2 separate regions of the Homo sapiens genome follow, and region 1 is linked to region 2. Evidence: fine-mapped expression QTL. Tissue or cell type: whole blood. Region 2 holds a variant in brackets; the other region holds the start of a gene. All regions are shown on one strand. Distances are between the middles of the regions.

The links. PIP is the estimated chance that this variant, and not a neighbour inherited with it, causes the effect. A credible set is the group of variants that fine-mapping cannot tell apart.
Region 1: UBAP1L starts here. The variant in region 2 is the best candidate, but not a certain one, in a credible set for the expression of UBAP1L in whole blood (INTERVAL, PIP 0.65).

What each region holds. Positions count from the first base shown.
Region 1 is chr15:65,113,372-65,117,371 of GRCh38, reverse strand. UBAP1L (ubiquitin associated protein 1 like) reads left to right here and starts at 2,172. Exons shown (of 6, transcript NM_001163692.2): 1 at 2,172-2,222.
Region 2 is chr15:65,194,297-65,198,646 of GRCh38, reverse strand. It overlaps CILP (cartilage intermediate layer protein), which reads left to right. Exons shown (of 9, transcript NM_003613.4): 9 at 1-3,887. The coding sequence ends at 1,916. Among named protein-coding and RNA genes, the nearest start is that of CLPX, 11 kb to the right of the region's middle. The variant G/A (reference allele first, on the strand shown) is at 1,857.

The DNA of each region.
Region 1 (4,000 bases), 81 kb after region 2:
CCTTTGCTGCCAATTTGTTGCCTTCCAAATCACTTAACACACACTTTCACATTGATGAAACATATTTTCATTCAAAAATTCAAATTTATTAAGCAGGCATTTGTTACAGGAATTTGAATCTTAAATGCTAAACTTTATCTGCAAAATCCAAGTCTGGATTGGTAAGGATACCATCAATTTTGGAAATAATGTTACGTACTGTAGTTGGAAGCTTTTGGGTGCAAGATACTAATGGCTTTGTCCCTTTTCTGTTGTTTAATTTGCATTAATTTATACATTATATAGAGTCAACAGATAGGGAATGAGGGCCACATGTCTCCAAAATGTATGTCTACGCTTATAAATCTTAAAATCTGATATGATTACCCTCATAGAGCTCCACAATCCTGTGTGCCTTTTTGTTAGATATCTCCACCATTTGCTCTCTGATGAGATGCAGGAAGAGTAGAAATAAGGTGAATTGTACGATGTGTGTTTGGTGTCTGGACAGCCTTGCCACTAAGATATCTGCTGTGAGGGCAGGGAATGTGCTGCAGGGACTCAGGAAAACTCGGACAGCAGAACCCAAGAAGGTGGCATTTAGCCACAGATGGAGAAAAAAAAAATCCCTTTTTCCTTTGGCCCTTGCAAGGTTTTAATAAAGTGATCAGGCTGGGTGTGGTGGCTCACGCCTGTAATCCCAGCACTTTGGGAGACCAAGGTAGATGGATCACTTGAGGTCAGGAGTTCAAGACCTGCCTGGCCAACATGGTGAAACCCCATCTATACTAAAAATACAAAAATTAGTCAGGCATGGTGGCAGGCGCCTGTAATCCCAGCTACTTGGGAGGCTGAGGCAGGAGAATCACTTGAAGCCAGGAGGCGGAGGTTGCAGTGAGCTGAGATCACACCATTGCACTCCAGCCTGGGCAATAGAGCGAGACTCTGTCTCAAAACAAAGAAAATTAAAAAACAAAACAAAACATGAGCATTACTCTTGTTCGGTTTTTATTTGTAAGATTTTCCTGGTTTATTACCTGTGTGTAGTGGTGGTGGCAGTAGCCACTGGTTCTTTCAGGTTTAGAGAGACTCATGGTAGTATCTTTAATGAATTGTACTTTCAAGAATATGAGCAGTGTTATTGTAATGTTATCCCACAGTCTTTTTTTTTCTTTTTTTAACTTGGGGAAAATTTCAAATACATTCAAAAGTAAAGAGAATAGTACAATGATTTTTTTCCATGTACCCATCATCCAGCTTCAAATCATTATCAGCTTATGGCCAATCTTGTTTCATCTATACATCCTCCACTCACCCTGGATTATTTTGAAGCAAATCTCAGGCATCAAATTACTTCATCTGTAAATATTTCATTATGTAGCTTTAAGTGATTAAAAAAAAAATCTAACTACAGGGCCATTATCACATCTAAATAAAGGAGTAACAACTCCTGAATATCACAAATATCCAATCATTGTTCAAATTGCCCTCTCGTAAATGTTTTACGTTTTGTTCAAATTAGGATCTGAATAGACTCCATACACTGTTGTTTGCATCCTTGTGATGCCATGTCCCTCTGTTCTCGTATGTCCTATAATTTAGTAGTTAAACAGAGCTGTACTGTCCAATATAGTAGCCACATTCAGCTGTTGAGCACTTGAAATGTGATCTATTTGAGTTGAGATGTGCAATTACATATGTGGATCACGTTTCAATTGGATAGTGCTGATCTAGAGGCTTGATCACATTCAGATTGGAATTTTCTGGCAGGAATACTTCACAGACATAATGTGTACTTCCAGTCAGGAGGCACTGATGTCTTGGCTTTTTTTGTGATGTTAGCGGCCACTGATAAGACCCAGATTCATTCATTGATGGGGAGGGGACTCAAAAATAGTGATAGTTTAATTCTGTCATTCTTCAATTATTAACTGGAATACTTTTAAAAAGAAAAACTGTACAAAAGCATTTGTTTTTAATAAATTCGGTAAATACAGAGATTAGAAAGCTATGAGAGAAAGAGATTAGTTCTTAAATACTAAGGGTATTTAGCCCAAGTGGCTGAGTTTATGATGTCAAAGAATTTGCTGCTACAAGCCAACCAACTTAATCACTCTATAAAACCATTCATGCTCCTATGCCCATGTGACATTTGTAACAAGAAGCTTAGGCTTATGCCATCTGTTGTAGCTATTCATTTATACACGCTTTGTCTGCAGGGAAGTTCTCCTGGTAATTACAAGGTAAGTACAAAGTATATCTTATTCCATTTAAATAAGTATAATATGCAATATATGAAAGGAATGTGAACATTCTGAAATAGTAGTGATTTATGGAATAGTGATTAAATGAGACATTATCAACTAAATTTGTTTTTTGCCACCTGTTTGTCCCAGATTTTTTGTAATGCTTAGAACCTATAAGCTATTTCCATATGATGAGCTCTTTACCTTTTTGTGAATCCACATAGTAGTTCCTGGCTTCCTGTATCTGGCCACACATGAAGAGTATGTTTCCATTGCAGAGTTCATTTGCCTTTTGGAATAAATTTGGTTTTTCATAGCCTCCAAAGCAAAGATTAAGGTCTCTGAGGCAAGTGGTGTTAGAGTGCATAACTGTGTAGAACAGTGGACACTTTCCTCAGCTTTGTTAATTCATGCTGGCCACAGTCTGGATACCAGAATTTGAATTATGTTCTATGGGAAATGATTTTTTATTTACCATTTTCCAGGTACTGTGGTTAGGTGCTAGGGATGTAAGAAGGGGTGAACAGACAGGATTCCTGACCTCCTGGAGTTTAGAGTGAAGAAGCTTAATGATTATAACAGAGTCATTAGAGACAATTGTGATAAGTGCTACAAGGAAAAGTACTTATCAGCCAATTTATATATTTCATTCCAAATGTTTAAGTGCCTATTAAAGCTAAGCAAAATGCCAAATACTCCCTAACCTCATACAGAATACAGGCAATGAGGAAGGTAGATATTAACCCAATAATCATAAAAAATATGCTGAGTGCTTTGAAAGAAAGACATGGTTCTGAGATTATGAATTAGGATTTTTCTTCAAAAGCGTTCTGTGACACATTTAGTTGAAATAATAGGAAATATGTATCATATAGTAAGGGTAAGAATCATTATTCAGTTTACATATGTGTATGCTAGGAAATAAAAGTATACTATGGGTCATAGTTAAAAAAAAAAAAAAAAGGCTGGGCGCGGTGGCTCATGCCTGTAATCCCAGCACTTTGCGAGCCCAAGGCAGGTGGATCACAAGGTCACGAGTTCAAGACCAGCCTGGCCAAGATGGTGAAACCCTATCTCTATTAAAAATACAAAAATTAGCGGGCGTGGTGGCAGGTGCTTGTAATCCCAGCTACTCGGGAGGCTGAGGCAGGAGAATCTATTGAACCTGGGAGGCAGAGATTGCAGTGAGCTGAGATCGAGCCACTGCACTCTAGCCTGGGCAACAGAGCAAGACTTCATCTCAAAAAAGTAAAAAATAAAAAACTTTGTAAAGGCCACTGTGCTAGGTAGACCTGACCAAGTTTGAGAGTCAGGGCAAGCTTTTTTGAGGAAGTGATGTTTCAGCTGAGCTCTGAAGAATGAACAGCTTTTTCTTTTCTTTTCTTTTCTTTTTATTCTTGAGACAGACTCTCGCTTTGTCGCCCAGGCTGGAGTGCAGTGGCGTGATCTTGGTTCACTGCAACCTTCGCCTCCCAGGTTCAAGCAGTTCTCTCGTCTCAGTCTCCTGAGTAGCTGTGAGTACAGGCGTGTGCCACTACACCAGGCTAATTTTTGTATTTTTAGTAAAGAGGGGGTTTTGCCATGTTGGCCAGGCAGGTCTCGAACTCCTGACCTCAAGTGATTTGCCCACCTTGGCCTCCCAAAGTGCTGGGATTACAGATGTGAGCCATTGTGCCTGGCATTTGAGCAGCTTTTAATTAATTGTGGGGAAGCAACAGGGAAGAACTTAGCAAGTATCCAGAACAGGATATGCAAAGGTTCTGTGGGGACTGAGA
Region 2 (4,350 bases):
AGTTTGTCAACACCACCAAAGTGCTACCTTTCAACAAGAAGGGGAGTGCCGTGTTCCATGAAATCAAGATGCTTCGTCGGAAAAAGCCCATCACTTTGGAAGCCATGGAGACCAACATCATCCCCCTGGGGGAAGTGGTTGGTGAAGACCCCATGGCTGAACTGGAGATTCCATCCAGGAGTTTCTACAGGCAGAATGGGGAGCCCTACATAGGAAAAGTGAAGGCCAGTGTGACCTTCCTGGATCCCCGGAATATTTCCACAGCCACAGCTGCCCAGACTGACCTGAACTTCATCAATGACGAAGGAGACACTTTCCCCCTTCGGACGTATGGCATGTTCTCTGTGGACTTCAGAGATGAGGTCACCTCAGAGCCACTTAATGCTGGCAAAGTGAAGGTCCACCTTGACTCGACCCAGGTCAAGATGCCAGAGCACATATCCACAGTGAAACTCTGGTCACTCAATCCAGACACAGGGCTGTGGGAGGAGGAAGGTGATTTCAAATTTGAAAATCAAAGGAGGAACAAAAGAGAAGACAGAACCTTCCTGGTGGGCAACCTGGAGATTCGTGAGAGGAGGCTCTTTAACCTGGATGTTCCTGAAAGCAGGCGGTGCTTTGTTAAGGTGAGGGCCTACCGGAGTGAGAGGTTCTTGCCTAGTGAGCAGATCCAGGGGGTTGTGATCTCCGTGATTAACCTGGAGCCTAGAACTGGCTTCTTGTCCAACCCTAGGGCCTGGGGCCGCTTTGACAGTGTCATCACAGGCCCCAACGGGGCCTGTGTGCCTGCCTTCTGTGATGACCAGTCCCCTGATGCCTACTCTGCCTATGTCTTGGCAAGCCTGGCTGGGGAGGAACTGCAAGCAGTGGAGTCTTCTCCTAAATTCAACCCAAATGCAATTGGCGTCCCTCAGCCCTATCTCAACAAGCTCAACTACCGTCGGACGGACCATGAGGATCCACGGGTTAAAAAGACAGCTTTCCAGATTAGCATGGCCAAGCCAAGGCCCAACTCAGCTGAGGAGAGCAATGGGCCCATCTATGCCTTTGAGAACCTCCGGGCATGTGAAGAGGCACCACCCAGTGCAGCCCACTTCCGGTTCTACCAGATTGAGGGGGATCGATATGACTACAACACAGTCCCCTTCAACGAAGATGACCCTATGAGCTGGACTGAAGACTATCTGGCATGGTGGCCAAAGCCGATGGAATTCAGGGCCTGCTATATCAAGGTGAAGATTGTGGGGCCACTGGAAGTGAATGTGCGATCCCGCAACATGGGGGGCACTCATCGGCAGACAGTGGGGAAGCTGTATGGAATCCGAGATGTGAGGAGCACTCGGGACAGGGACCAGCCCAATGTCTCAGCTGCCTGTCTGGAGTTCAAGTGCAGTGGGATGCTCTATGATCAGGACCGTGTGGACCGCACCCTGGTGAAGGTCATCCCCCAGGGCAGCTGCCGTCGAGCCAGTGTGAACCCCATGCTGCATGAGTACCTGGTCAACCACTTGCCACTTGCAGTCAACAACGACACCAGTGAGTACACCATGCTGGCACCCTTGGACCCACTGGGCCACAACTATGGCATCTACACTGTCACTGACCAGGACCCTCGCACGGCCAAGGAGATCGCGCTCGGCCGGTGCTTTGATGGCACATCCGATGGCTCCTCCAGAATCATGAAGAGCAATGTGGGAGTAGCCCTCACCTTCAACTGTGTAGAGAGGCAAGTAGGCCGCCAGAGTGCCTTCCAGTACCTCCAAAGCACCCCAGCCCAGTCCCCTGCTGCAGGCACTGTCCAAGGAAGAGTGCCCTCGAGGAGGCAGCAGCGAGCGAGCAGGGGTGGCCAGCGCCAG[G/A]GTGGAGTGGTGGCCTCTCTGAGATTTCCTAGAGTTGCTCAACAGCCCCTGATCAACTAAGTTTTGTGGTACTTCACCCTCTTCTGCCCTCATTTCATGTGACAGCCATTGTGAGACTGATGCACAAACTGTCACTTGGTTAATTTAAGCACTTCTGTTTTCGTGAATTTGCTTGTTTGTTTCTTCATGCCTTTACTTACTTTGTCCCATGCTACTGATTGGCACGTGGCCCCCACAATGGCACAATAAAGCCCCTTTGTGAAACTGTTCTTTAAATGAAACACAAGAAATTGGCCACTGGTAAAACTCTGCAGCTTCAACTGTACTTCATTTAATGCCATTAATGCAAATATACTTCCTCTTCTTTTTGCATGGTTTTGCCCACCTCTGCAATAGTGATAATCTGATGCTGAAGATCAAATAACCAATATAAAGCATATTTCTTGGCCTTGCTCCACAGGACATAGGCAAGCCTTGATCATAGTTCATACATATAAATGGTGGTGAAATAAAGAAATAAAACACAATACTTTTACTTGAAATGTAAATAACTTATTTATTTCTTTGCTAAATTTGGAATTCTAGTGCACATTCAAAGTTAAGCTATTAAATATAGGGTGATCATAGTTCCTCTACCAAGTCTGGAAAGAACATCTCCTGGTATCCACAATTACACCAGGTTGCTAACTGTATTTGTACATTTCCCTTTGCATTCGCTTCTGTTCTTGCTAGAAACCCAGTGTAGCCCAGGGCAGATGTCAATAAATGCATACTCTGTATTTCGATTCTGAGGCCACTGTCCTGTCTTAACTATTAAAGTGAGCCAGCTTCTCAGAGGAGTACAGGGGACTCTGGAAAGCAGTCACAGGTGGTGTAAGTCCTCGCCCCCTAAGTTACAGGGCAGGGCAACATAGGCACACACTCCAGCAGTCAAATTTGTTCTCATGGATCACATTTTCCGTTTGCAGAAAAGAGCAGATTCCTGGAGTTGTGAGCATGTTCTGGGCTCCTGAGCAAGACTAAAAACACGTCCCGATTTTTTTCTTTCCTTCTTTCCAATACTTTGGAGCTTATACAATGGCTTGGCCCAGGGTCTGACAAGCTGGCCAAGTGGTCCTTTGGCTCTCCCAACAGCCTGTTGCCTTCTCCAGCTGGGCTGGCCGGCCTCACTCAGAAATGGGCTTTTACTTTTTTCTTTATGCTCTTCTAAAGATGTTCAACTTTTCCAGACACCAGATCTCTGTTGTGTGTTACAGACCCTGTCCCTGGAGCAAAACAATTGGTCCAAACGGGCAGAGTTTTGGTTTTGGAAAAGGTATTTGGTTTAAAATAGTAAATCAGAGGCCCATAGGTGGTGCCAGAGCGATCTCAGCGGCATTACAGTCAGGGTAGTGGGGTGTGGGGTTGGATAGGATGCACTCACTGCCCCTATCCCAACCCCTCCAGAATCTGTCAGGCAAGAGTCCAAAGGGTTTGGGAGAAGAGAGGACACTGTTTACAATCAGGACAAAAAGCTTTCCCTGATGCCCTGGCCAGCCTAGTGCAGCTCCTTTACCCATCTCTGGCCTGGGCTGGATTTGTACTCTTGGATCACCATCTGCCCGGCTCCTGGGAATTTGGTTTGTAAGCAATTAGAAATTTCTCTAGCTGAGCACATCACAATAACCATAGAAAAAGCAAGCATCTGCAGGAGTGAGGACTAGTGGTCTTGTGATTGCAACTTGACCCACTTCCAGACTCCACATCTGTCCCACTGCTCCCAGGAAGCAGCTCTCACTGACTGCTTGGGGAGGCTTGACTGCCCCTGTTGTGAGTGCACAGCTATCTGCAGCACCATCGCCCCAGCCACTTCAGGAGCCAGAGTGCCTGCTGCTTCAACCTGACCACCAGTTCACTTCAAACTCACGGGGGGAGGGGGAGGGTCGGGGGGGGGTGGGTTGCTGGGGAAGGTGGGCTGACTGGTTCCCCACTCTAGGGCACTTTCCTTGCTGTTCTCAATTGAGGGCCTGAATAAATGGACTCCAGCACACAGCATCTGATGCCTGACTTTTTCCTTCACTCGCCAAACATTTATTGAGTGCCAAACCATGTATGCAAGTAGACAAGCTTTTATGAGATAGTACAAAACATACTACATGTCATGGCATCAGACTTTGAGGAAGTAGTGGTCAAAGAAGTCTTCTTAGAAAAGGTGACATCTAATTTGAGGTCTGAATGATAGCTAGGAGGTGGCCTGCTAATGGTATGGCTGTCAGGAACGAGAGGCACAAGCAGAAACAGATGTGCAAAACCAGGGACTGCAGGCTGGGTGGGGCTTGCAGGCAGATACCTCTCTTTCAGACAAGGAAACACTTTTTTTTTTTTTTTTGAGACGCAGTTTTGCTCTTTCGCCTAGGCTGGAGTGCAGTGGTGCGATCTTGGCTCACTGCAACCTCTGCCCCCGGGGTTCCAGCGATTCTCCTGCCTCAGCCTCCCGAGTAGCTGGGATTACAGG